Regions from separate parts of the Homo sapiens genome. Here region 2 is linked to region 1. Evidence: fine-mapped expression QTL. Tissue or cell type: whole blood. Region 1 holds a variant in brackets; the other region holds the start of a gene. All regions are shown on one strand. Distances are from middle to middle.

Region 1 (2,756 bases):
ATGGTGGTTGTAGTTTTGTTTCGTTTTGTTTTTAAGAGATGAGTCTTGAAGGCAGAGTTGTAATGGCCCTCCTCTCTCCCCTCCCATTCCCGAAATTAGGGTAGCTTAACAGAAAGCCACCTTGACCACATGGCCAGGGACTGAGATTCAATGGGGAAAGAAAGACTGTAGCTGGAATGTGAAGAATTTGATTTGCAGTTGATTGCAGGTTGGGTTTCCGGAAGGGCAGACAGCTCAATGTAGTGCCATCATAGGGCCTCAGATGCCCACACTCCACCCCCAGAGCTTCACAAAATGGAAGGACCCTGGAGTCACCCTTCTCCCCCACCCCCATAAGCACTCAGCCTACAGATTATTTCAAGTGATCAGGAGAATTAAAACACACCCCAACCCTGAGTTGCTCTTTAGCAAGTCTATTTACAATTTTTTTCTCACCTCTCCCTGGAGGTAAATCTGGGTTTCAAGTTGGGAAGCCATGGGGTGAGGGAGTTCCCCAGTGCAATGGCCGATGACGAGTATCCTTGCCACTGCCAGTTAACAGGGCTGGGATGAGCTCCTGTAGACAGCAGCCTCACATCCATCAGCTAGGGTAGCCCTAGGTTCTCACTCTGTTGGCCTACGCTGTGAAAATGATGGGGCTCTGCAGTGGAGCAAATCCCCATGACAGAGAAAATCACACCTGGAATATCAAAGTGCTTTGGTCCAGGTTCAGTGACCAGAGAAGAGGAAGAGGGGCATCTAGCTCATTTAAAAACCTGGAGGTTTGCCCTGCTTCCCAGACAGGGCAGTAAGAAACAACTATAACGTTTTTCCCATTAGGGAAAAACATCACAAAACCAAACCCATAGAAGGGCTTTTAACACAGCTTCCTGATGCTTAGCTGGGCAATGTCTCTTCCTTCTGTGGGGGGACAAGGGAGTTAATGGGACTGGGCAACAGCCTCAACATGAGACCACCCAATCTTCCACGAAAGAGACGACATTCCCACAAGCAGATAAAAAGAGCAGTTTAAAAGGTGAGGAGTTTTAGTGCTCTTGTAGCCAGCCCACCTTAAACCTAAATTAGAAGCTTTTTACAACATACAAAATAGACTGATAACTATGCAGATCACATTCCCATCTTCAATAGTAAATATACATAGTAATAAATCTATTATTAACAGTGGGACCAAATAACATATAAGGCAGACATTTAAACAGGTGTTGTATCATCAACATGCTCTAAAAAAAACTCATCTGACTAGATCTAGACCCAGGCCTTTTTGCATGAGGCCAAGACAACAAGTATACAATCAATACCCATGTGACACAGTCCAAGTGCTGGGGAATATGAGGGGGCAGTGGGCCATGGGGAGGAAGATATCAGCCCCAGTGAAAAGCTGGGGTTTGGCTTTACTCGTGATATTTTGATGCTCTATGTCTGAGTAAAGGAGGAAAAAAAAAAAAACACTTTGATAACGTACAAAAGGCATCGACTCCCATTTCAAAAATAAATGGGAAGACTTCACAGTCAAAGTTCAGTCACTTGTCAGTATCTGCCCTGGAACTCTGATGCAGTATCAACTCTTGTACTCTCTCCTTTTCCCTCCACTAGCATGCCCTCTCTCAGTTGTTTGGTTTGTTTGTTTTCTGAGATGGAGTTTCACTCTGTCACC[C/T]GGGCTGGAGCGCAGTGGCGCCATCTCCACTCACTGCAACCTCCACCTCCTGGATTCAAGCGATTCTCCTGCCTCAGCCTCCCCAGTAGCTGGGACTACAGGCACATGCCACCACGCCCAGATAATTTTTGTGTTTTTAGTGGAGACGGGGTTTCACCATGTTGGACAGGCTGGTCTCGAACTTCTGACCTCAGGTGATCCGCCCGCCTCGGCCTCCCAAATTGCTGAGATTACAGGCATAAGCCACAGCGCCCGGCAGTTCTGTTTGCTTCAGGATGCTAGGGATACTTCTGGGAGATAACTGCTAACAGATTAGAAAGAAGAATGATACATAAAAAATGATTAGGAAAAGTTTGGTGACAGACCTAATCATGGTCTGTCCCAGAGTTAATATGGTCCAGGGGATGGCAAAGGACAGCAGACCCCATACACATTACCCCCGTTGAGCCCTCCCTCACCTAGCACTGGGGAGACTTGGGTTTCACCTGGCACCATGCACAGATCCCTAGCCTGTGATCCAATCAACTGGAAAGGTCTCTAAGACAGTTTAAGCCTGTGATGTGTGTGATTAAATTTTTTTTTTTTTTTTTTTTTTGAGACGGAGTCTGGCTCTGTCGCCCAGGCTGGAGTGCAGTGGCGCAATCTCGTGATTAAATTTTTAAGCTAATTTTCCCCATCCATTTCAAAGAGTAGCCATGGTCTCCTTGCTCTCATGCCACGCTCTGAGCACCCTCTACACATAGCAACAGTTGTAGAAAACCAAAGCATCTGGTGTGTGGAGCCCAAGAGCCCCATCCTGCTGTCGGAAAAAAAGAAGTCCTCATCCAATCAGCTTCCTACCTAGACTGGGGACCTCCATTTTCTCTGTGCTCTTTAGGACCCGGAAGACAAAGAAACAACCTATGGCTGGCTGCCAAGGAAGATCTACTGAACTGAGGCAAATCTCAACAAAGTCTTTGTGCTTCCTGGCATAGAAGAGTATCTGAATATCTTCATAAGCCTCTGCTCACTTCTTCACCCTTCTGTACTCTGCTGTGTTAAACCGTGCAGTCCTGGGAAGGCAAGGGTGGTAGAGAAAGGAACAGGAAGAGTCTGCTCAGTC
Region 2 (2,604 bases), 61 kb after region 1:
CTGGACAACAGGGCAAGACTCTGTCTCCAACAACAACAACAAAAAAATATATATATATACATATATATATATATATATATATATATATATATATATATATATATACACACACACACGTTAGGCGGGAGTAGTGGTCACACCTGTGGTCCCAGCTATTGGCGGGGCTTAGGTGGAAGGACCACTTCAGCCCGGGAGGTCGAGGCTTTAAGGAGCCATGATCATGCCACTGCACTCCAGCCCGGGCGACAGAGTGAGACCACGTCTCTTAAAAGAAAAAAAAAGAAAAAAGAATTCCATCACATATCAGTTCCTTGCCTCAATGCTATTTTTAAGAACTTTCCTTCCTGATAAAAAACTCGACCATACACACTGCCATGCTGAACACTTTAACATTTCCATCTTGGCCGGGTGCAGTGGCTCACACCTGTAATCCCAGCACTCTGGGAGTCCAAGGTGGGAAGATCGCTTGAGCCCAGGAGTTCAAGACTAGTCTGAGCAACATAGCCAGACCCCACCTTTAAAACAAAAAAAAAAAAATTCCATCTTCCCTCACTTCACACCACTTCAACATGAACCCTCAACTCCAGACGTTCCAATGCGCATCTTAACATTCTCAATCCAACCTTTAACTAAATTCTGATTCCTTTTCAAAGAACGCTCTCAAGATTCCCTCTAGTGTAAGCAGTTTCCCGAGCCATCTTCCCAAACACTAGCTTTCACCTAACTCAATCCCCAAAATGTCACACTGGACTCCTCACCCACAGCATCCTGCTAATTAGCCGTTCCCAACAGGTCCTCCGTTCCCGTCTCCCTTTTTGCGCACGATTACCTCGTTCCTCACAGAGTTGCCGCCTTAACTCACCCAACCCTTCAGGAGCCCTTATTGCCTGTCTCTCAAAAACGTTCCTCCCCATTTTTCCAGTCCCCGCTCGCCCCATACCAATATTCGACCACTCCTCCCCAGATTCCCCACGCCCTCTCTCCTCCAGGTTCTTCCGATACAGTCCCCCGGCCCCCCGCCCCTCAGGCCCCACCCGCAAGACCCCTCTCCCCCTCCGGCCCCTCCTCTAATGCCCCCCTCTCTTCTCAAGCCCCGCCCCGAGCCCCCCTCCCCGCGACTTTCCCTCCCACTCAGGTCCGCAGGTCATTTCAGCGACTGACCCAGCCGCCCCGGCCTCTTTCCGACCTGGCCGCAGCTGCTCTGGGAGCGAATCCTCTGCCGCCTACACTCCGGCTTCGTCCTGTCCTGCTCGCCCCCCGGCAAGCTCTTTCTCGCCGTCGCCGCCGCCGCCGCCGCCGCCGCCGCCGCCACCGCCCCTTTTGCCAACCCGGAAATGGATCTGCTCCCACCGTCCCCAGCGTCCGCGAACAAAATGGAGGCGGGGGAAAAAGGAGGAGAGAGCAGGGAGCGGAGAGATGCGAGACGCATGCGCCCCTGGGAAGCCCGCCCCCTGCCGGCCCACGTAAAGGCGGAAGCGGTTGAGTGGACGCCATCTTAGGAAGGTCACAGGAATTCCGCTTACCAGCTAAAAGCTGGGTTTGCAACTTTAGCTGCAATTGGAATCACCTGGCAAGATTTAAATACTATGATGCCTGGTTCCCACCCCTGGAAATTATAATTTAATTCTGGGGTGCAGCCTAGGCATCAGGAAATTGTTGCAGGTGATTCTAACGTGTTGCCAAGGTGGAGAACCACTGAGCTAAACAGTCATTGTTGAATATACTCCTTTCGTCTTTAATCCGCCGCACACACACACACCCTCCCCCCTAAATATCCTTCCTTAATCTCGAGTTAACGAAGAACCCGCCTCGGCCAACCTTGCAAAGGCCAAGTAGTCAAGCTCCGGTTGTCATGGCAACAGAGGCAGGCCACTGCTCACAAGTCATCATTTACGTCATCTTACCCACCTGACTCGAACACCGTCTCTTCTTTCTCGGGCTGGGGTTTCCTCCAGCTTCCAGGGCTATAGGATGGTGCTGTGGACCCCTCCAGCTGCTTGGGCCAGAGAGAGAAATCCTGTGCCCTCTTTGATGGAGCTGCTGTTAAACCCTGACAGCTGACTAAGTATCTCTCCCTAGTCCACCCAGAAAAGCGCTTTCCATTATAGCTTCAAAATACTCTTGGTTTAATTCCATTCCCAGCACAGAATCCGAAGTAAGGGGGCAAGATTGGGACTTAGTCCCCATTACTTACAAGCTGTGTGCCATTGGGCCTTAGCTACCCTATCTGTAAAATGGGTCTAATAGTGCCTGTCCCGTCTGTCTCATAGAGTTGTTGCAAAGCTGAAATCAGTTAATGAATGGGAAAACGTGATAGAGCATAAGTTGTTATTATTTTTGTTTTCCTTCTATTCTGCCATGAGTAGTACTAGGCACCACCCACTAGTCAAGTAAATGTCACATTGAGTACCTGCTAAACACCAGGAGATGGCTACAGAGGTGACTAAGACAGAGCCTCTGCCCTCAGGGAACTCACTACGTTGGTGGGCAGACTGGCATAAACAGCTAGCTGAGATACAAGTCAGCGTGTGATTAGTGCTGTGGGACGTCAGACAAGGGAGCAATTAATTCCTGCTAAAGAATGGAAGGAGGTTTCCTAAATGG

Evidence for each region. PIP is the estimated chance that this variant, and not a neighbour inherited with it, causes the effect.
Region 2: WIPF2 starts here. The variant in region 1 is fine-mapped to the expression of WIPF2 in whole blood (INTERVAL, PIP 0.99).

The regions. Positions count from the first base shown.
Region 1 is chr17:40,279,343-40,282,098 of GRCh38, reverse strand. WIPF2 (WAS/WASL interacting protein family member 2) reads right to left here. Exons shown (of 8, transcript NM_133264.5): 8 at 1-2,756. Among named protein-coding and RNA genes, the nearest start is that of CDC6, 7.2 kb to the left of the region's middle. RefSeq lists enhancers at 1-116, 117-1,053. The variant C/T (reference allele first, on the strand shown) is at 1,655.
Region 2 is chr17:40,218,075-40,220,678 of GRCh38, reverse strand. WIPF2 (WAS/WASL interacting protein family member 2) reads right to left here and starts at 1,375. Exons shown (of 8, transcript NM_133264.5): 1 at 1,187-1,375. RefSeq lists enhancers at 756-1,534, 1,435-1,544, 1,985-2,034.